Regions from separate parts of the Homo sapiens genome. Here regions 1 and 3 are each linked to region 2. The links come from fine-mapping of genetic effects on gene expression. A gene starts in region 2. Each other region holds a variant in brackets. All regions are shown on one strand. Distances are between the middles of the regions.

Region 1 (8,186 bases), 44 kb after region 2:
AAATGGCCATACTTCCCAAAGTAATTTATAGATTCAATTCCATCCCTATCAAGCTACCAATGACTTTCTTCACAGAATTGGAAAAAACTACTTTAAAGTTCATATGGAACCAAAAAAGAGTCCGCATCGCCAAGTCAATCCTAAGCATAAAGAACAAAGCTGGAGGCATCACACTACCTGACTTCAAACTATACTACAAGGCTACAGTAACCAAAACAGCATGGTACTGGTACCAAAACAGAGATATAGATCAATGGAACAGAACAGAGCCCTCAGAAATAACGCCACATATCTACAACTATCTGATCCTTGACAAACCTAGGAAAAACAAGCAATGGGGAAAGGATTTCCTATTTAATAAATGGTGCTGGGAAAACTGGCTAGCCATATGTAGAAAGCTGAAACTGGATCCCTTCCTTACACCTTATACAAAAAATAATTCAAGATGGATTAAAGACTTAAACGTTAGACTTAAAACCATAAAAACCCTAGAAGAAAACCTAGGCATTACCATTCAGGAAATAAGGATGAGCAAGGACTTCATGTCTAAAACACCAAAAGCAATGGCAACAAAAGCCAAAATTGACAAATGGGATCTAATTAAACTACACAGCTTCTGCACAGCAAAAGAAACTACCATCAGAGTGAACAGGCAACCTACAAAATGGGAGAAAATTTTCGCAACCTACTCATCTGACAAAGGGCTAATATCCAGAATCTACAATGAACTCAAACAAATTTACAAGAAAAAAACAAACAACCCCATCAAAAAGTGGGTAAAGGATATGAACAGACTCTTCTCAAAAGAAGACATTTATGCAGCCAACAGACTTATGAAAAAATGCTCACCATCACTGGCCATCAGAGAAATGCAAATCAAAACCACAATGAGATACCATTTCACATCAGTTAGAATGGCAATCATTAAAAAGTCAGAAAACAACAGGTGCTGGAGAGGATGTGGAGAAATAGAAACACTTTTACACTGTTGGTGGGACTGTAAACTAGTTCAACCATTGTGGAAGTCAGTGTGGCGATTCCTCAGGGATCTAGAACTAGAAATACCATTTGACCCAGCCATCCCATTACTGGGGATATACCCAAAGGATTATAAATCATGCTGCTATAAAGACACATGCACACGTATGTTTATTGCGGCATTATTCACAATAGCAAAGACTTAGAACCAACCCAAATGTCCAACAATGATAGACTGGATTAAGAAAATGTGGCACATATACACCATGGAATACTATGCAGCCATAAAAAATGATGAGTTCATGTCCTTTGTAGGGACATGGATGAAACTGGAAATCATCATTCTCAGTAAACTATCGCAAGGACAAAAAACCAAACACCACATGTTCTCACTCACAGATGGGAATTGAACAATGAGAACACATGGACACAGGAAGGGGAACATCACACTCTGGGGACTGTTGTGGGTGGGAGGAGGTGGGAGGGATAGCATTAGGAGATATACCTAATGCTAAATGACGAGTTAATGGGTGCAGCACACCAGCATGGCACATGTATACATATGTAACTAACCAGCACGTTGTGCACATGTACCCTAAAACTTAAAGTATTAAAAAAAAAAAGTGTATCTGTATTTTTGTGTTCATGAAGGGGGTATTCATATCTACATATTCATGTAGATATGTGAAGATACAATTTTCTGACTGTGATTTTATCACATCCCTCGATTTTTCCACTGTTCCATCCTTCTGTCACTCATCTGTTTCTCAGTCTTCAACTGCAGAACAAGAAGCTGAGGCAGAGACATAATGAACACTTATTAAACTGCTTGTATGGTATAAAAACAAAAAAGACGGTCAACAAAAAGCTGGTTAGGAAAATATAAAAATCGGTCTTTATACAAACTGGCTTTTAGTAAATTGGTGTGCTGCCAGAAATAGGACGGAAAAATGCTCCTGTGTAGCATGAGCAGGAGCCAGCAGCTCCAGTATGCTCCAGTGACTGACAGTTCAGGTTACTCCATGGCAGAGTCTAGGGACATGGGCAGCCTAAGCCAGGGGACAGATGGAGGACAAGCTTGAGACTTGAACCATCTTAGCATCAATGAAAGCTATGATGGAAGCAAAGCAAGTCAGGAAGGAGGCTGGAATTCCCTGCCATGCAGTGAGGACACACCCCAAATTCCACCAGCTGCAGAACTTTAGCAGGAGAATCATCAAGGCTTCACATAGAGAAGCCAGGAAATACAAGTTAAACCTCAACCAGAGGCCAATGGGAACCAGTAGAGGCAAGGGTCCCCTTTCCCAAAGTCTCATGGTGTGCGGTGCAGAGGCATCCCTTTGAACTAGGCCTCATGATGGGAAGGAGGAGGGGGAGTGTGACTCTTTGAAAGGATAGAAGCATCCTTGATAGGAAATTTGAATTTTGAATTATCAGACTATTTCCCCAAAAGACTGAGTTAATCCAATAAAATCAATAGTTCTGACAGCACACTTATAATGATATTTTAGGAAATAATAAGGAGTTTAAGCTGCTTGACGCCTGACCTGTAGTCCCCAGCACAGAGCCTCATACGACACAAGCCTAAAATAAATATTTGCCGAAACTCTGATAACATAGTTCAAAATGAATATCTAGAAATAGAGAAAGCCAATTTTGTTCGGCTCAATTCTTTCTCAGCCACAGAGATGTATTTTGAGAAACTTTAGTGTTGCTTTCACACATCACATTCTTTTAGGTCACGTCAAGTGATCAACTTCACATTAGGTAAAGAGTATTTCCTCGTAGCAAGACCCTCACATTACAGACCAAACTGCCACATGAGTTATCTGTAGGGCCCAGACATCCCTCATGTACGAATACTTTAAACACCTCATAAAATGAATAGGGTAATTTTATAAGTATGAAAATTATGGAACCAAAGAGATTCACATTTTTGTTCTTGACTAAAAAAGATGCATTTATTGCAATCTTGTGTTTTTACTTGACATAAAGAGTAAATACTTTGCCTTCCAATTTGGCTTTCTAGTGGCGTTCCACATCCCAATGGCAGTTTTTAAGTGCTACTCGACTGATATCAAGGATGTTGTCTTATATCAGAGCAGCTTGGATTTTCTACATTCTTATAAACTTTCCTACTATAAACTTGTTACCATGTTGTGTGATTCCAGAAATGATTTTGGGAAATATCTGTCTCTTGATGTTTGTATTAGTGATTCCTTACCTGTGTGTCTTGCCTTATCTGATTTCTCCCACACTTTCAAATCTGCAAAGTTGAAGCCAGTTTGGAATATCTAGTGTTCCTTTCTGTCCAGAACAGCAAAGGTTAAGGTAGGGTACACCTGGTTGCTGTATGTCAGGTGATTCTCAGTCCTGACTGCACATTAGAATCACCTAGAAAGCTTTTGAAATTACAGATGATTATAATGTGTAGCTGAGGTTGAGAACCATATTCAAAATGAAGTTCCTCTAAGTAGAAATCCACAAAATAGAAGTCACTGAGCTGCAGAGGAACACAACCCATTTATCTTTGCTCTTTTATGTATATCTTCTTCATTCTACTCCTTCCCACTGCCCCACCAGGTTTTTGGATGAAGAGCACTATCCT[C/CT]TTTTTTTTTTTTTTTTGGTGGGGGGACAGAGTCTCGCTTAGTCGCTCAAGCTGGAGTAGTGCATTGGCATGATCAGATCGCAGCTCACTGCAACCTCCTCCTCCTGGGTTAAAGCTATTCTCCTGCCTCAGCCTCTACAGTAGCTGGGATTACAGGCACCTGCCATTACGCCTGGCTAAGTTTTGCATTTTTAGTAGAGACGGGGTTTCACCATGTTGGTGGTGGGCCAGGATGGTCTCAAACTCCTGACCTCAAGCGATTCACCCACCTTGGTTTCCCAAAGTGCTGGGATTACAGGCGTGAGCCACCGTGCCTGGTCGGATGAAGAGCACTATCCTAATGTGTGCCTCTGTATGTTTTCTTTGAAGGCAGAGGAGGGGAGCAATGGGAGAAGAATGAGGATGGAAAGAGTGCTAGGGATGAGTAGACACAATGTTACAATGGCCAACTAGCACAAGCTGAAGGTTCCATCTTCCTACCCAATACTGAGGGATGATTTCAAAGTGAGAGGAAAGTGTGTAAATCTGAAGGACCAAGGATAAAGTAGGAGACAGAAGGTAGTTGTGTCCTAGGGAGGAAAGGCAGCCTAGAGGAGATCATAAGGGCATTAATGTTTTGGAAAAGAGCAATGAGTGGGTAAAAAATAGGAAGGTTCTCTGAGGGGAAAACCATCTCCCCTCCCTGGCCACTTAAAGTCACAGGAGTGAATAAGCTGGGGCCTGTGCTTTTCCACCCCTACCCCATTGCTAGCCTAAGCAACCCATACCCCCAGGGATAAATGAGTTCTCAGGAATAATAACCAAACATACGAGGAATATAACCACTTTCTAAAGGACATAGCAGATGAATAATTTGTTCTAGATGAGGCAGAATTGTTGAACCAGACCAAACAAAACTTCAAAATAAACATAATACATTTCTCCCAAGAGATAAAAAAGAAACAGGAATATTCAGTTATAAAGAAGAGCCAATTGAGGGCCAGGTGTGGTGGCTCATGCCTGCAATTCCGGCACTTTGGGAGGCTGAGGTGGGTGGATTGCCTGAGGTCAGGAGTTCCAGGCCAGCCTGGCCAACATGGTGAAACCCCATCTCTACTAAAAATACAAAACTTAGCCAGGCATGGTGGTGCATGCCTGTAGTCCCAGCTCTCGGGAGGCTGAGGCAGGATAATTCGTTGAACTTGGGAGGTGGAGGTTGCAGTGAGCCAAGATTGTGCCACTACACTCCAGCATGCATGATACAGTGAGACTGAGTCTCAAAAAAATAAAATAAAATAAAGAAAAATGAAGAGCCAATTGGAAACCATGAATATAAAAAACATTACAGTAGAGGTAAAATATTAGAAAGCTGGGCTAAATATTGGAAAGAATATAGTTCAAATATGCTAATGAGCTGGTCAAAGAATTCTCCCAAATGGTGTCAGAAGGAGGAATTTCCTTAAAGTAAGGTTAACGAACATGGTGGTGAAAGAGAAACTCTGAAGATCTGTGTGTTACAATATAGGAAATATGGAAAAAATTAAGAGCCAAACTATCTCAATATCAAAACAGGTAGAAAAAGAAGTACCTCGTGCAAACATAATATCATGAAATTTGAAAACATCAAAGAGAACATTTTTTAAGTTTCCAGAGAGAAAGAGAAAAACACATTAAGAAAACAGAATAAGATTGCTATAAAACTTTAGAACAGAGACACAGGAAAGAGAAAGATAATGTAGCAATATTTTCTAGGTGATGAAAAACAAAAACTTTGAACTCCGAATTTTTTATCCAGTTAAGCAGTAATTTAAATGTGAATTGCTATAAAGATGTTCTCAGACAAAGAATGACCCTCAGAAGTTCTTGCAAGTAAAAACAAAAGCAGTTTTGCTGGAAGTCTAACAGCAGAGAGATTCCAGGAGGAATTTGTACATTACATGGGAAGGAAAGGTTGTGTAAATAATTTAGTGAAGATTAGCAGAAGCCACAAACAAAGTATATTCATGACATTCCAGAACTATTGATAAGACAGACATTCTTGAATGTGGAGGCTGGGGAGGGAGAGAATAAGCAAGCTAAAGTACATGTCTTCCTTGAGGGGAAGATGAAGGCATTAAGTTTAAGAAATTGATCTTCGGCGCCCGACTGGCAAGGTGGCCAAATAGGAACAGCTCAGGTCTGCAGCTCCCAGCGAGATCAATGCAGAAGGTGCTGCATTTCCAACTGAGGTACCCAGCTTATCTCATTGGGATTGGTTAGACAGTGGGTGCAGCCCACAAAGAGTGAACCGAAGCAGGGTGGGGCATCAACTCACCCGGAACCCGGGAAGCACAAAGGTCAGGGAACTCCCTCCCCTAGCCAAGGGAAGTCATGAAGGACTGTGCCTTGAGGAAGTGTACACTCCAGCCCAGATGCTATGCTTTTCCCACAGTCTTCACAACCTGTAGACCAGGAGATTACCTTGGGTGCCTATGCCACCAGGGCCCTGGGTTTCAAGCACAAAAGTTGGCAGCTGTTTGGGCAGACACCAAGCTAGCTGCAGGAGTTTCTTTTCATACCCCAGTGGCACCTGGAACACCAGTGAGAGAGAACTGTTCACTCCCCTGGAAAGGGGGCTGAAGCCAGGGAGCCAAGTGGTCTAGCTCAGCAGGTCCCACCCCCACAAAGCCCAGCAAGCTGAGATCCACTAGCTTGAAACTCTCACTGCCAGCACAGCAGTCTGAAGTTGACTTGGGATGCTTGAGCTTGGTGGGAAGAGGGGCGTCCACCATTACTGAGGCTTGAGTAGGTGGCTTTCCCCTCACAGTGTAAACAAAGCTGCCAGGGAGTTTGAACTGGGTGGAGCCCACCATAGCTCAGCAAAGCTTCTGTAGCCAGATTGCCTCTCTAGATTCCTCCTCTCTGGGCAGGGCATCTCTGAAAGAGAGGCAGCAGCTTCCAGACAAAGAAACAGACAGAAATCTTTGCTGTTCTGCAGCCTCCACTGGTGATAACCAGGCAAACAGGGTTTGGAGTAGACCTCTAGTAAACTCCAGCAGACCTGCAGCAGAGGGGCCTGACTGTTAGAAGGAAAACTAACAAACAGAAAGGAATAGCATCAACATCAGCAAAAAGGATGTCCACACAGAAACCCCCACCAAAAGGTCACCAACATCAAAGACCGAAGATAGATAAATATACAAAGATAAGGAAAAACCACCTAAAAAAGGCTAAAAATTCCAAAAATCAGAATGCCTCTTCTCCTCCAAAGGATCACAACTCCTTGTCAGCAAGGGAACAAAACTGGATGGAGAAAGAGTTTGCTGAATAGACAAAAGTAGGCTTCAGAAGGTGGGTAATAACAAACTCCTTTGAGCTAAAGGAGCATGCAAGGAAGCTAAGAACCTTGAAAAAAGGTTGGATGAATAGCTAACTAGAATAACCAGTTTAGAGAAGAACATAAATGACCTGATGGAGCTGAAAAACACAGCATGAGAACTTCATGAAGCATACACAAGTATCGATAGTCAAATCGATCAAGTGGGAGAAAGGATATCAGAGATTGAAGATCACCTTAATGAAATAAGGTATGAAGACAAGATTAGAGAAAAAAGAATGAAAAGAAATGAACAAAGTCTCCAAGAAATATGGGACTATGTTAAAAGACCAAACCTATGTTTGACTGGCATACCTGAAAGTGACAGGGAAAATACAACCCAAGCTGGAAAACACTCTTCAGGATATTATCCAGGAGAACTTCCCCGACCTAGCAAGGCAGGCCAACATTCAAATTCTGGAAATACAGAGAACATCACAAAGATACTCCTCAAGAAGAGCAACCCCAAGACGTATAATCATCAGATTCACCAAGGTTGAAATGAAGGAAAAAATGTTAAGGGCAGCCAGAGAGAAAGGTCAGGTTACCCACAAAGGGAAGCCAATCAGACTAACAGCAGATCTCTCTGCAGAAACCCTGCAAGCCAGAAGAGAGTGAGAACCAATATTCAACATACTTAAAGAAAAGAATTTTCAACCCAGAATTTCATATCCAGCCAAACTAAGCTTCATAAGTGAAGGAGAAGTAAAATCCTTTACAGACAAGCAAATGCTAAGAGATTTTGTCACCACCAGGCCTGCCTTACAAGAGCTCCTGAGGGAAGCACTAACCATGGAAAGGAAGAACTGGTACCAGCCACTGCAAAAACATACCAAATTGTAAAGACCATTGACACTACAAAGAAATTGCATCAACTAATGGGCAAAATAACCAGCTAGCATCATAATGACAGGATCAAATTCACACATAATAATATCAACCTTAAATATAAATGGGCTAAATGCCCCAATTAAAAGACACAGACTGGCAAATTGGATAAAGAGTCAAGACCCATCAGTTTGCTGTATTCAGGAGACTCATCTCACATGCAAAGACAAATATAGGTTCAAAATAAAGAGATGGAGGAATATTTATGAAGCAAATGGACAGCAAAAAAAAGCAGGAGTTGTAATCCTAGTCTCTATTAAAACAGACTTTAAATCAACAAAGATCAAAAAAGACAAAGAGGGGCATTACATAATGGTAAAGGGATCAATGCAAAAAGAAGAGCTAACTATCCTAAATATATATGCACCTAATACAGAA
Region 2 (8,186 bases):
ATCCCATCTCCTGGACACTGTTTAAGGCTGCATTTTCTGATGCACAAATTAATTTTAATGGATGAAAACATAATTTCTCTGAAGTTTTCTCTGAATATTAAGACTGATGATGAGCTCTCTTTGTTCAGAAATAGTGCCGCATTTTATGTGACTTTTAAACCAATCAAGTCTTACTTATGTTAGAAATGAAAATAAAAGAAACTAACAACAAAATATAAAGCTAGGGTGGTTATGATTTTTCCTTTAAAAATATAACTTCTGTTGTATTTCTGGGAATCAGACCTGCATATTTTAGTACAGCATGTTTCCATTAATATTCCATACAAAATAATGTCTAGTTTTTGGTAGCAATATGAAAATGCAACTAGAAACACAGTCTCATACACAATGAATTGATTTATGGTTATATTAATAAAGTGTATTTGTTCTTGTGATTTCTAGCTCAATTCAGCTAATGAGCCAAAAAGTCAATCACAAGAATCAAGTTGCATGAATGCAAGGCTCAAGTTGAAACAGGAATGAATTTGATGGACTTGGAAGATTTAGGCGAGTCCTTCCACATACCCGTACTGTTTGTTGGGCTTCGATTGTTAGAATAAAAAGTCTGTCTTCTGCTCATACTGTCAGTATCTTCTTTGTTGAATTTTTCCTTCATGTTTTGGCAGCATGGGAAGCTTTGAACACAGTCTTGAAGGAGATGGCCACTAAAAAACATGTATATCCAGGGATTACAGCAGCTATTCAAGGAACCCAGTAATGCAGTGATGGTGATGGTAGGGTTTTCCGATTCTGCATGAAAAATATAAAGGGAAATCATGTAATGTAAGTGAACCATGGATAAACTCATTTTTCTATTAACTAATTAAGAAGGCATAAACTTCTGGATTATCATAGAAAATGAACTATTTTGTTTATCAATCAGGGAAATGGGGAGTGTTTGAAAATTGCTTGACTATAAAATATTTTTGTAAGCAAGATGCCTTAAAATTAATTCAAGTATTTTTAAAACACTATCAAAATATTTAAATAGAATTGAGTGGGAATTTTACGAGGTTAAGACTATTAAGTAATTGATTTAAAAAATCTCTATCTTCTATACTCGAACTAGCATGTGCTAATGACACAGCAGTTACAGAATGGCTACAATTGTAATGAAATTTTAAGATAATTTTAAATAACCATGTATACCAAATTGTATTTATCCTAATAACTCAGGAAAAAATATTGCATTAGGGATCAAGTTTAGTAGTTTTAAATATTCTTATAATATGAAAACCATACAGAAGAAGTCCCTGGATGATATAAGCTTTAGTTGTTTTTCTTTGGTTAGAAATTTGGAAAACCATCTGTGGTTGTGGTTCAAACAAATTATATTAAGAAGAACAGTAGAATTAGGAAATTCCAACAGGATTCTAAAATATTTTATGATAATTAGCACTGGTAAACTGCATAAATATTATAACCTTTCACAGTGGAGCTACAGTGCTGATAATATACCTTTTCTAAAAATAAGAATAATCAATAAACACTGACTTTTCCTTGATTATTAAATATAAACTTGGATCTTCTCACTCTTGTTATGCCAGAAAACAATTACAGGTTATTATTTAATCATACTTAGTGCTAAGATGCTGCTATCAAAGGTGATCAGGAGCCATGGGTAAGATGGTATTCACAAAGAATGAAAATTACCAACATATCTATGCACAATTGAAGTTTTTATTACTTGAGTGTAAATTCTGCTAAAGCAATAATTAGACTGAATTTCTTTATTTGATGGACAATATGAAGAGGCTTCTAAGATCAAGCAAGATAAGAAATAGCAAACCAAAAATAAAGTGTTTATATTGTATTTTTCATTATCGCTAGTATTATAGTCAGTAAGAATATTTAAGTTAAATTCATACTGAAATGTTTTATTTGCAAATATAACTTCCAAAGCATATTACATACCTCCCCTACTCCAATTCCAAAAAGCAAAAGGAGAACAGCTACTCCCAGATACCTATTTCCTGTTACCAGAAACATTCTGGTAACAACTGTACCATTGAATTTATTTGGTTTGAGTTCCGACAAGCACTGGAATTTATTTAGTTTGAGTTTTTGTCTTTACTAGAAGAAAATATTTTCAAGATGCAAAATTAAATAATTTTTTTTGCAAGTCACTGTGAAGTTAGTTTTTCTAGTTTGGGAAGGAATTAAAATCAAACACAATAGTAGGTGCAGAGAACATTTCCAGTAAACTACTGTAAGAGTTGGGTGGAGAGATGTAGAGCCGTGTGGTCAAATGAGTGGTGAAAGACTAATGAATTAGTCTAATGAATTTAGTTTATCAATAATTCTGCTTTGAAATACCAAGAAAAAACTATTAATCATTGTTAGAAAAAAATAGATTATAACGAGAAAGGAACATTATTAGCTAAATGCCAAATTGGAATTACTCACCTTCTAAAGAATTTTTCTCCAGCTTTCTTTAGAAATATATATCTGTTTCTATCCTTGCCCCTGAGGCATTTCTACACATTTTTAAAATTAATTGTAATACTTTTCACAATCCAACAAAAAGCAGTTGTGACAGTAAAAATATTTCCCTGAATCCAATAGACCTGAAATGGTGTTAATACAGTAGCTAGTGATTTAGCAAAAGTCATTCTTCGGCTTTGTAGTTGCTTGGCTGACTCTAGGACACAGTTTCTGGAATTGTGGTCTTAGGATCATTGCACACTACAAATGCAGAGTCCTGAGCCCCATTCCAGACATTCTTAATTAGAATGTCTGCATGGGGAATCCAGGAATATGCTTTTTTTTTTTTTAAACAGTGTTCCTCCAAGGTGCGACTCTTATGTACACATAGAAGTTTAAAAACTACTGCCCTAGAAGATACTATGAAGAAAATTGCTAGATTCTCATTTTTTTCTCTCTCTCTCTCTCTCTCTCTCTCTCACACACACACACACACACACACACACACTCCTATCCCTGCACTTTCCTCTATTTTCCCGGCACGTACCGGTCCAGACGGACATGGGATCCCAGACAGACCACATCTGGATGATGAAGAAAGGCGCCCAGCAGACGATGTAAGCCGTCACGATCACAAAAGTCATCTTCACCGTGCGGATCTTGGCCCGGGAAATGGACTTCACGCTGCTGACACAGGGTGCGAGCAGGAACCCCTTTTGGAAGGCCACACCCGCTTGCTCTGCACCCTTGCTCTGGCGCGACGCCGTCTTCCCGCGGACGTTGCACCAGATGTTGTAGCAGATGAAGCCGTAGCAGGTACCCAAGATGACCACGGGCGCCACAAAGATGCCGCCCGTCATCCAGGTCACGTAGGCACGAGAACCCCAGGGCTGGATGAAGGTGGCCCAGCAGTCGCGGGCCTTGGTGACATTGTTCACCTCGATCATGGAGAAGACGAAGTACTGCGGCGTGCTCAGCACGAAGCTCAGCACCCAGGCGGCCGCGATCATGAGGCGCGAGCGGCGCGCGGGCTGTTGCAGAGTCTTGAGCGGGTGGCACACCGCGATGTAGCGGTCGGCTGTCATGACTACCAGCATGTAGGCCGACGCAAACATGCCGAACACCTGCAGGTGCTTCACCACGCGGCACAGCCAGTCGGGGCCGCGGAAGCGGTAGGTGATGTCCCAGCACATTTGCGGCAGCACCTGGAAGAATGCCACGGCCAGGTCGGCCAGGCTGAGGTGTCGGATGAAGAGGTGCATGCGGGACGTCTTGCGCGGCGTCCGGTGCAGAGCCAGCAGTACGCTGCTGTTGCCCAGCACGGCCACCGCGAAAGTCACCGCCAGCACGGCGATCTCCAGTTTGGCCAGCTCCTCGTTGCGCACGTCCCTCGGTGGGCCGTTGCCCTCCCCGAGGGCTTCGGCCTCCCGGCTTGTGTTGCCAGCGCCGGTGGCCAGAGGCCACCATGGGCTGGAGTTGCCCGAGGGCCCCGCGTCGGGACCGGCGGAGAGACGCATGCTGTCCATGCAGCTCCTACTCGGCCCTCTTCGGAGCTCCAGCCCTCGCGGGCCGCTCCCTCCCCGTCTCGGAGGACTTGGGCTCCTCGTCCGAAGCGCAGGGTCTTTGGCGCGCTCGCAGCTTGCCGGGCTCTGCGATCCCTCCAGTGGGCGTCTCCCGGAGCAGCGTCCCGCCTGCCCACTGAGCAGCTCTCAGCAGGGTGAGCTGGCCCCTCTCCCTGCTCTGCCTTTTTTCAACTTCGGCGAGGTCGGGAAGGTGAGCTCCGAGCTTCCGGAAGCACTGGGTTCCCAACTCAAGTATTTATGCGGTGCTTGTTTCCTTGGGACGCGCTCCCTCCCGCCCTATTGCCGGAAGACTGCTGGTTGCCTACTCCCCGCTCCCTGGAGTTTTATTTTTTCCTCTCCCTACGTCGGTGTTTGTCCTCTGCATCACTGTGGAGGGGGTGGAGCTGGGAGACTCGCAGATTCCTCCTCACAGTAGGTGGGATCGTGGCGCTTTCCCGCTTTTCCCTTCCAAAAACTTGGACAACTGGACGAGTCATGCCTTTTCTGGGCTCGTAGCCGTTTCCACAAGCTTCCCTCACTAGCCTTCCTCGCTAGCCTCCTTAACCATGCATTTGACTTCAACAGGCACGCTAAGCGCGGTACCTGGAAACCTCCAGTCCACGCACCGGCGTCCACGCATCTAGCTCCTGCACCTGAACCTGGCTCTCGACCTCACCTCCTCCAGTCCGGGTTTCTTCCTTCTCACCGAGCTCACCCGTGCAGCAGTCTGGCAAATTTTATTCCCCAGGCAAATTTTCCCGGGGCAAACATTTCTCCCCGCTCGTGACTTAAAGAGCTATCTCTTCCTAGTAACGTCTTTGATGCATGCTATTTATTACCCTATGTTTGCGACGGGAAGAACGCACTCATCACTTTGCAGCCCCAGTGGCTGCTGTGCCTGTATTCACAGCGGGGTTTGGGGGGAGTGTCTCCTGGTTTTCTCTATGGAGACTAGGGACTTAAGGAGTTTTCTCTAGATTCCTGGGGTTTTCTGCGGGAAAAGCCTGATTCCCACAGCGGGGATGGCGGAAATTTGGCCGCAGTGGTCCGTGGGGACCGTCTGGTTACTACTGAGTCGTGGGGACATCTTTTTGGGTGGACAAAGAGCAGCTGCCGGACAGCGGCCATCCAGGCAGTGCTGTCCAGGGCAAGGGACAGAAAACCCGCCCGGCTCCTGTGCTCAGGAGTAAGAAAGAGGCAATCTCAAAGAGAGGAAAGAGGCCCTGGGAAGGAGGGGAAACAACCACCTACCTAGTAATCCGTTACTCTGAACAGCTGGAGCCCCTCTGCAGGGCGGGAGGGAGGCAGAAATGCGATCTCCCTCAGCTCTGTTTTAACGTTGGTGAAGATATGCCTCGACGGACAGCAAGGGGGAGCTGTTTTCAGGCAATTTTACAAGGAAGAAAGGAAGCCGTTTCTGCAGTTATCTGCTGTGTAGATGCAGGAGCATGACTTTGTTGGTCAGAACGTTTCAGTATTGTGGCCGTGGTATAAATTTAATTGCCTCAGAAAAATATCACCCTCTGTGAAACGTAGGCAAAAAATGCAAAAGATTTTATTCATTGCAGTTCTCAGTAATAATTCCACTTTACTATCCAGTCCGTTCATGCAGAGTTACCAAGGTTGTCACGTTGAGATGCTGGACTTGAAATCTGGAGTCCTGCTTCCTGTGGCTAGATAATCCTGGGTCTGTGCGTCTTATAAATGGAAATGAAAGGACCTGCCTTTCCTGTTGTTGAGGTCATCGGGAAGATCAAGTAAGACAATGTTCTGTATGGGGGAAATGCTCTAAAAACTGAAAGCTGTGTTGTGTTGGTTCATTTTCTCCAAGATATCCAGGAGGCAGAAGATTGAAATGGTTCAGGGATGGAAGGTAATAGGTAAAAGGTTTCCAGACCACCTGTCTGGAAAAAATCCTTCAAGCAATTAGGTAATAGTCACTGACTCAGAGAATTCACTTTCTTTTAAGTCACAAATTACACTATTAGTGCTCCTGATGAGAAAGAATGTTGACTGAACCTAGTGTCTGGGTATTGCAAAAGTGGTTTGTTGGCCACAGCCTAGTAATTTTGTGGCTCTTGGCCCTACACACTTGAGCTTTTAGGTTTTTTTCAGGAGAGGAAATCTGCAATACAGGCTCACCAATATCTCTGTGGAGGTTCTTATTCCAGGAGATAGGGTGGTGGCCTCTCAGGAAATCATCTGTGTCAGACAATCTGATCCAATTATAAAACTATATCCAATTATCCAAATTATAAAAATAACCTCTCAAGTTATGTTGGTGGATACAGTTGGAAGATATTATTGTTCAGTGACAACAGTACCAATTATCCATATATATCAAATGTATATATGCTTGATACATAGATGTATGTTTATATGTATGCATCTGGCCATTCTATGTATCATGTGTCAATCAATCATCTATCTATCTGTCTATCTATCTATCTATCTATCTATCTATCTATCTATCATCCATCTATCTGTCTCTCGCTGGTTGTGCTGGATGCCATGGGGCCTGGAAAGCAGGAAAAAAAAATGTTCATTGCAGATTGTAGAACCAGTCCCTTTGTTTAATCCATATAGTTTTAAACATGTTTTTGACTTAATTTAACTGGTTTTATATACAAAGGAAAGCAGGACTATTACATATGAGGCACTACTCATATGCCTCACTGGACCTGCTATTAAATTACCCCATAGAGAGTAAAATAATTGTGGTCTTAAAATATGAAAAAGAAAACACAACAGACAATATTTTATGTGGCACCTTGTGCTTTTTCTTAGAGCAATTTACATTTTCTCTGTACTTTTTGTATTATTAAGACTTACCTTTTCCCTCTTACTCTTTGTAGACTTCAGTTAACAAATTTTAGGGGTGAAATAATGAAAAAAATAAGGAAGTTGTGCATACATATCCTGGAATAATCATTCTCTTTCATTTACCAATCTTCTTTCCTTTCACTTCATAATTCCAGATATTTGAGAAGTACTTCAGTTCATGGAAGCAGCTATCTCCTTCACTTACTAGCAGTAAGACTTTGTTTTCATCTTCGAGTTTCAAATTCTTCACTGTAAAATCTTGGTGATTAAACACAATGCAGTTGCTGCAAAGATTATATAAATGGTTGTTTAAATTTCTGGCATTTTATCGGTGTTCAAAACATTTTCTTTTTTTCATACATGTAAATCCTCCAAATTACCAGCTATTTTACCATTAACATTTTCCCTTCCAATTAAAGCAAAATATTCCCAATTTACATATGTGCAATGAGAAGAGTTTTATGGTTAAATATGTTGGAGAAGTGCTGTGTATGCATCCCACCCTCTCCTGGTGATTTATACATAAAAAGGACCTGAGAAACTTCAGAAAAGAAACTTACTTAACCTTGTTCATCAATGTTTTCCAAGGTTATTTTACCATGGAAACTCCCCATTTTTTTACTTTCCCCATGGAATGGTGATGAACATGTCACAAGACAAGGTGACAGAGCAGGAGCATCACCATCCTGCCATTTTAAAGTTCACCTTGATCAAAAACCACCTAAATCCAAAGGGCATCAGCCTAATGGCTAAGGCCAGAATGACCATGAGCCACAAATAACATCTCTTACCAGAAACATTCCAAACCCCTCCCTGACCAGAGACATATCAGCCCCAAGATAACCTCCCCTCCAACCAGATACATTCCAACCCTGCAACTGACTTCTCCGTTATACAGAAACATTCCACGCCGGTGATAAGTTCTCTCACCCTTAAACCAATTAATACTCTTAGTCTGTAACAGAGAATGCTCCTGACTGAAATTGGCCAGAAGCCCCTCTCAGGTTTATTCTCCAAAATAAACCTGTCTTTGAATGTTGAGCCACTTTTTGTGTTTCTTTGCATATTTGATTGCTTCTTCTGCCCTATTGTTTAAGTAAAAATGCAGATTCACTGAGCCAGACTAAGGCATAAGTGACTATTCCTCTACCCTCTTCACATGTAAGTTATCTATTCAGTGAAAGACTAAAGACTCAAAAGAACACAACCATTTGTCTCTTATCTACCTATGACCTGAAACCTCCCGCTTCGAGTTGTCCCACATTTCCAGATTGAACCAATGTACATCTTACTTATATTAATTGATGTCTTATGTCTCCCTAAAATGTATAAAACCAA
Region 3 (8,186 bases), 290 kb after region 2:
GCCTGCCTGCCTCTGTAGACTCCACCTCTGGGAGCAGGGCATAGCCAAACAAAAGGCAGTAGAAACCTCTGCAGACTTAAATGTCCCTCTCTGACAGCTTTGAAGAGAGTAGTGGTTCTCCCGGCACGCAGCTTGAGATCTGAGAACGGACAGACTGCCTCAAGTGGGTCCCTGACCCCCAAGTAGCCTAACTGGGAGGCACCCCCTAGGAGGGGCAGACTGACACCTCACACGGCCGGGTACTCCTCTGAGACAAAACTTCCAGAGGAATGATCAGGCAGCAACATTTGCTGCTCACCAATATCCGCTGTTCTGCAGCCTCCACTGCTGATACCCAGGCAAACAAGGTCTGGAGTGGACTTTCAGCAAACTCCAACAGACCTGCAGCTGCGAGTTCTGACTGTTAGAAGGAAAACTAACAAACAGAAAGGACGTCCACACCAAAACCCCATCTGTAAGTCACCATCATCAAAGACCAAAGGTAGATAAAACCACAAAGATGGGGAAAAAACAGAGCAGAAAAACTGGAAACTCTAAAAATCAGAGCACCTCTCGTCCTCCAAAGGAATGCAGCTCCTCACCAGCAATGGAACAAAGCTAGACAGAGAATGACTTTGACAAGTTGAGAGAAGAAGGCTTCAGACGACCAAACTATTCTGAGCTAAAGGAGGAAGTTTGAACCCATGGCAAAGAAGTTAAAAATCTTGAAAAAAGATTAGATGAATGGCTAACTAGAACAAACAATGCAGAGAATCCTTAAAGGACCTGATGGAGTTGAAAACCACGGCATGAGAACTACAAGATGAATGCAAAAGCTTCAGTAGCCGATTCGATCAACTGGAAGAAGAGGTATCACTGATGGAAGATCAAATGAATGAAATGAAGCAAGAAGAGAAGTTTAGAGAAAAAAGAATAAAAAGAAACAAACAAAGCCTCCAAGAAATATGGGACTATGTGAAAAGACCAAATCTACGTCTGATCGGTGTACCTGAAAGTGACGGGGAGAATGGAACCAAGTTGGAAAACACTCTGCAGGATATTATCCAGGAGAACTTCCCCAATCTAGCAAGGCAGGCCAACATTCTAATTCAGGAAATAAAGAGAATGCCACAAAGATACTCCTCGAGAAGAGCAACTCCAAGACACATAATTGTCAGATTCACCAAAGTTGAAATGAAGGAAAAAATGTTAAGGGAAGCCAGACAGAAAGGTCGGGTTACCCACAAAGGGAAGCCCATCAGACTAACAGCTGATCTTTCGGCAGAAACTCTCCAAGCCAGAAGAGAGTGGGGGCCAATATTCAACATTCTTAAAGAAAAGAATTTTCAACCCAGAATTTCATATCCAGCCAAATTAAGCTTCATAAGTGAAGGAGAAATAAAATCCTTTACAGACAAGCAAATGCTGAGAGACTCTGTCACCACCAGGCCTGCCCTAAAAGAGCTCCTGAAGGAAGCACTAAACATGGAAAGGAACAACCGGTACCAGCCACTGCAAAATCATGCCAAATTGTAAAGACCATCGAGGCTAGGAAGAAACTGCATCAACTAACGAGCAAAACAACCAGCTAACATCATAATGACAGGATCAAATTCACTGATAACAATATTAACCTTAAATGGAAATGGGCTAAATGCTCCAGTTAAAAGACACAGTCTGGCAAATTGGATAGAGTCAAGAACCATCAGTGTGCTGTATTCAGGAAACCCACCTCACGTGCAGAGACACACATGGCTCAAAATAAAGGGATGGAGGAAGATCTACCAAGCAAATGGAAAACAAAAAAAGGCAGGAAAAGAGGAAGTCAAATTGTCCCAGTTTGCAGATGACATGATTGTATATCTAGAAAACCCCATCATCTGAGCCCAAAATCTCCTTAAGCTGATAGGCAACTTCAGCAAAGTCTCAGGATACAAAATCAATGTGCAAAAATCACAAGCATTCTTATACACCAATAACAGACAAACAGAGAGCCAAATCATGAGTGAACTCCCATTCACAATTGCTTCAAAGAGAATAAAATACCTAGGAATCCAACTTACAGGGGATGTAAAGGACCTCTTCAAGGAGAACTACAAACCACTGCTCAATGAAATAAAAGAGGATACTAACAAATAGAAGAACATTCCATGCTCATGGGTAGGAAGAATCAATATCGTGAAAATGGCCATACTGCCCAAGGTAATTTATAGATTCAATGCCATCCCCATCAAGCTACCAATGACTTTCTTCACAGAATTGGAGAAAACTACTTTAAAGTTCATATGGAACCAAAAAAGAGCCCACATTGCCAAGTCAATCCTAAGCATAAAGAACAAAGTTGGAGGAATCATGCTACCCGACTTCAAACTATACTACAAGGCTACAGTAACCAAAACAGCATGTTACTGGTACCAAAACAGAGGTATAGACCAATGGAACAGAACAGAGGCCTCAGAAATAATGCCACATATCTACAACTATCTGATCTTTGACAAACCTGACAAAAACAAGAAATGGGGAAAGGATTTCCTATTTAATAAATGATGCTGGGAAAACTGGCTAGCCATATGTAGAAAGCTGAAACTGGATCCCTTCCTTACACCTTATACAAAAATTAATTCAAGATGGATTGAAGACTTAAAATGTTAGACCTAAAACCATAAAAACTCTAGAAGAAAACCTAGGCAATACCATTCAGGACATAGGCATGGGCAAGGACTTCATGTCTAAAACACCAAAAGCAATGGCAACAAAAGCTAAAATTGACAAATGGGATCTAATTAAACTAAAGAGCTTCTGCACAGCAAAAGAAACTACCATCAGACTGAACAGGCAACCTACAGAATGGGAGAAAATGTTTGCAACCTACTCATCTGACAAAGGGCTAATATCCAGAATCTACAATGAACTCAAACAAATTTACAAGAAAAAAACAAACAACCCCATCAACAAGTGGGTGAAGGATATGAACAGACACTTCTCAAAAGAAGACATTTATGCAGCCAACAGACACATGAAAAAATGCTCATCATCACTGGCCATCAGAGAAATGCAAATCAAAACCACAATGAGATACCATCTCACACCAGTTAGAATGGCGATCATTAAAAAGTCAGGAAACAACAGGTGCTGGAGAGGATGTGGAGAAATAGGAACACCTTTACACTGTTGGTGGGACTGTAAACTAGTTCAACCATTGTGGAAGTCAGTGTGGCGATTCCTCAGGGATCTAGAACTAGAAATACCATTTGACCCAGCCATCCCATTACTGGGTGTATACCCAAAGGATTATAAATCATGCTGCTATAAAGACACATGCACATGTGTGTTTATTGTGGCACTATTCACAATAGCAAAGACTTGGAACCAACCCAAATGTCTAACAATGATAGACTCGATTAAGAAAATGTGGCACATATACACCATGGAATACTATGCAGCCATAAAAAATGATGAGTTCATGTCCTTTGTAGGGACATGGATGAAGCTGGAAACCATCATTCTCAGCAAACTATCGCAAGGACAAATAACCAAACACCGCACGTTCTCACTCATAGGTGGGAATTGAACAATGAGAACACGTGGACACAGGAAGGGGAACAGCACACACCGGGGCCTCTTGTGTGGTGGGGGGAGGGGGGAGGGATAGCATTAGGAGATATACCTAATGTTAAATGACGAGTTAATGGGTGCAGCACACCAACATAGCACGCATATACTTACGTAAGAAACCTGCACGTTGTGCACAGGTACCCTAAAACTTAAAGTATATATATAAAAAAAAAGACCTTGTCTCTACAAAAAAACTTAAAAATTAGCCAGCCTGAGTTGGGAGGATCACTTGAGGCCAAGAATTTGAGGCTGCAGTGAACTATGATCATTCCACTACACTACAGTGGTAATAGAGCAAGACCTTGTCCCTAAAAAATATAACAAGATAAAAATTTAAAGGCCGATTTGCAAGGAAATATTGAGGTTAGAATTCTGCGTATACTTTTTAAGCAATGGTACATGAGTTAGTTAAATAGGTACTGTTTTGTAAAGCCAGTTAAAATTTTTTCTATCCATTTTAAAGTATGTTGAAACTATGGGTGACTTGAAATGTATTTCTAATATATAGGTAGGGTTTTTTTTTTTACCTAGCTGTTTAATTGTTCTGTGATTAATACGCTATTGAAAAAATGAATTGTTAATTGTTGGGATTTTTCTTACATTATGTGGCAGGTTGTAGGTACCCATTTTGCACAGCCACCTTCTATTCTTATGTGAAAAAAATTCTCTTTGTTGCAAAAAAAGTTTATTTATTTATTGCTAATAAAGAGTTTGTGTCAATATGACAAAAAAAATTTTCAGCCAAGACAGACCAACAGCTAGACATCTTGCACCAAACAGCCAAGTTGTAAATGCTGGTTTGAATTCTGACTCTGCT[A/G]CTGCACCATGTACCTTAGTCACACTTTTTGACCTCCCTGAGCAAATGGGAATAATAATATGTATCTCATAAATTGTTGAAAAGACCCAATTAGATATTTTATGTAAATTGCTTGCCACATAGTAGGGATTTAAAAATATCAACCCCTTTCTTTTTGGTTTGTCTGGTAATTACCATCCAAAGAATAAGAGTAGTGGGCATAATAACACTTCCAAATTTCTTTTTATATACCACAGTGCTGCAGGCACAAGCTTACTTGCACAAACTGTTCAAATTAAATTGCTCATGTTTTGTCACTTCTGGAAATCTAACTTTCTTATTGTGTTATACAGTTTAATTTTTCTTTAGTTTCCTTCACATGGTTTGTCTTTATGCACATGATTTCCATATCATGGTACTGAGTTGTCCTCAGTTATATGCTCTGATATCTACTGTGTTATTCATGTTGATAGCTTTATAGATTTTCCCTTGACATATTTTTCTTTTATCGTTGTCTGAAACCGTCCTGTGTCTCATGGCCCAGTGTTTCTCTTTTGCGTGTCCCTTTTCTCTAGTCTGGAAAATACTTCAGTGTCTGCCCAGGACAGAAAACAAACCAAAAAAAAAAAAAAAACCCCACACACATCCCAGAGGTTTTTAGACCCTAATCACTTGAAGGGTATATGGTGCATTCAGCCCAGGTATTCTCTGGTAATTCTCTGCCTTTTACAACTGGTTTCCATGCAGTCAGCTGGAAAAATATAATAAAATCCAAGTAAGGTCAAGCCAGGAAGTCTATCCCAACTTCCTTCAAGTCACCTAAGTAATCACTTAGAAACAAAGGCTAAAGTAGTCCTGTGTAACCTGTAGTACTAGCACTGCCTGACTGCTGATAATCACAGAAGGCTCACTAAACAACCAAGCCCAGAGGATGCATAACTTTAGCACAGGAAACAGAAAGGAAAGATGAGATACTTCCCTTCCTAACTCTGATTTCTTCTCTCAACTTCAAATGCCTTTAAACATATTTTTCACTCATTCGTTTTTTCATTTATTCATTTGTTATTTATTTAAGGAAACACACAGTAAATACTAATTATAGGCCTAGGAATTTGCCAATTAGTAAATCCAAACTTCGTGTCCTAGAGAAACTCAGCGAACTGGAAAGATAAGCAAATAAATGAATAACAGTCTGACGTGCATGTAAGTTTAAAGAGGTGCGGTAGTGGGAGGTGAAGAGAGAGCAGGCAGCAGGCAGATGCTAGAACAGCTTGGCAGAGGAGATGTCACAAGCACTGAGCCTGGGGAAGGACAAAGCTGGAGGAGAGGGGGCAAGGAATGTGGGAGGGAAATGTCATCACATATTCAGGGATACTGAGGGATCTGCTGTGAGGACAGACAAGAATTGGTTCATTGGGTCAAGAAGAGAGGATTAGAGAAAAAGCAGAAAAGGTGATCCTGGGAAATTAGGTACAACCAGCTTTTTGAAATGTACAAATATGGCATGAAGGGACAGTGAAAAGATCATGGTTTTGTATGCTAGCTGGGCTACTTAGCTGTATGAACTTGGACTTAACATCTCTACACTTAATATCTCTGAACCCTAATTTATTTGCTTGTCAAGTTGAGGATAAGACTCAGGATTGAGCTAGAAATGATAGATAATGTGTTTATAACAATTGTTATAATATTAATACTATAGCTACTATGTATTGACCACTTACTATATAATGTCATGTGCTTTACATGATTATCTCATTCAATTCTCAGAGAATAATGTTATACCTTAGATATTATTATTATCCACATTTTACAGTTGAGGAAACTGAGATTAAATAATTTTCTATTAAATGGCTGCAGTATGATTAAAACATAGATGTGTCTAAACTAAAGTTCTTGTTTTTAAGTGGTATATTACATAAAGTAGTCATTGCCCAGTAGATAGTACATGCTCAATAAATGGAAGTTAGAAATCATAGTAGCAGTAGCAGTAATTGTAGTATTACGGGTAGCCAAAAGAAAACTAGCAGTGAAATTGTAGTAATGGCGGTAGTAGTGTTATCCTATAGGAAATGAGACACAAACAAAGGCTTTTTGTTGTTGTAATTTGTGTATTTATTTACAGAGAAAAAAACATGATTAGATTTGCATTCTAGAACAACTTTGGGAAAAGTATCTTAAAAAATGCATTTGAGAAAAAAGTTCCTTGGAACTTCAAATGACATTTATTTATTTAAGATGTTGTCTCATCATCTTATGTGATATTGTGAGCCCTGGACATAATAGAACACATTTTCAAATATTTTAGAAGTATAAGTACTAAGAGTTAGTAAATCATTGCATACTGGAGTGAGGTAAAGTTGATACCACCAATCCAAGAAGAGGACTACAAAAGAAGGATCACACAGCAGGTAATTTTTTTATTTGGGAATATGTTGATAGTAAGACATTCAGGTGATTCTGTCCAATAGACAGTAGACCCTGGACAAACAGCCTCCAGGTTAAGTTAATATAAGACACAGTCTTCCTGTAGGGCTAAGTAAGAGCACCCAGGAAATGTACAGTGAGGAGAGAAGAGGGCATAGGACCACACCCTGACGAAATTCATCCTTTGTGACATCTAGAAGAGGAGTTCACAGGGGAAACCAGGGGAGGAAGAGCAGAAAGGGAAACTGGAGAAGGTGAGGATAGATTTTATCCACTTCCAGTTTGAAAGGATTGACACTAGGCTCAGGGATGAGCATTAAGATTGTTTTTTTTTGCAATTGGTGTCTGCTATCACATATCCCATTGCAGGAGGTTATGATCCTACATATAACAAATAAGTAAGTATATATGCATATGTGTGTGTGTATATATATATATATATAGAGAGAGAGAGAGAGGGAGAGAGAGAGAGAGAGAGAGAGAGAGAGAGAGAGAGAGAGAGAGGGAGAGAGAGAAAATCCACAACTAGAAACTAAATTTGTGCAGTTATTTAATTTTTGATTGATGTAAATTTAAATTTAAGCAGCCCCATTTTTCTAGTGGCTACCATATTGGGGAGTTTCACCAGTTAGAGTGAACACTAAAAAAAGTAATGCAAAGAGTTGTAACTAAAAAGACAGGAAAAAATAAAATGGAATGGGAAAAAACCTGTTAATTCGAAAGAGAAAAGAATAAAAGAAAAAAGAATGAAGGGAGCAAATGTTTTAAAATAGTAAATTAGTTAAATTTGTATCAGTAATTACATAAAATATAGATAAACACTAATTTTAAAAATTGATATTGTCATGGAATTTTTAAAAAAGAGACCAATTATTTGCTATTTCGAGAGATATATTTTAAACATAAAGATACAAATAGTTAAAAGTAAAAGAAAAACTACATCGTACAGGTGCTAACCATAAGAAAACTGATGTGGAAATATTAATATCAATCAAATGAGATACGAGGACAAAAAATATTTCTAGAGGAAAAAATGGGCATTTCATATGGATAAATGGTCTAATTCACCAGAAAGACATAAAAATCCTACATGTATTACTTACAATATGAATTAAAATAAATGAAGGGAAAATGGACAGAACCAAAAGAACCAAAAGGAGAAATAGACAAGCTTATAATCATAATTTTAATATAGGTCATTCTGTAATGTGTAGAGAGAGCCAACAAAAAAAAAAATCAGAAAAAATCAGGGAAACTGGAGAAGGTGAGGGCAGATTGAACAACACTATTTACCAACTCGACCTTGACATTTACACACGATCTTACCCAACAACTGTAGGATTATTTTCAAGTGAACATGGGATAGTAA

What was found. PIP is the estimated chance that this variant, and not a neighbour inherited with it, causes the effect.
Region 1: its variant is the best candidate, but not a certain one, in a credible set for the expression of AVPR1A in whole blood (INTERVAL, PIP 0.75).
Region 3: its variant is the best candidate, but not a certain one, in a credible set for the expression of AVPR1A in whole blood (INTERVAL, PIP 0.83).

The regions. Positions count from the first base shown.
Region 1 is chr12:63,190,517-63,198,702 of GRCh38, forward strand. No RefSeq gene overlaps it. Among named protein-coding and RNA genes, the nearest start is that of AVPR1A, 43 kb to the left of the region's middle. The variant C/CT (reference allele first, on the strand shown) is at 3,587.
Region 2 is chr12:63,146,857-63,155,042 of GRCh38, forward strand. AVPR1A (arginine vasopressin receptor 1A) reads right to left here and starts at 4,345. Exons shown (of 2, transcript NM_000706.5): 1 at 3,011-4,345; 2 at 1-789. The coding sequence starts at 3,980. The coding sequence ends at 503.
Region 3 is chr12:63,434,684-63,442,869 of GRCh38, forward strand. No RefSeq gene overlaps it. Among named protein-coding and RNA genes, the nearest start is that of LINC03056, 65 kb to the left of the region's middle. The variant A/G (reference allele first, on the strand shown) is at 4,412.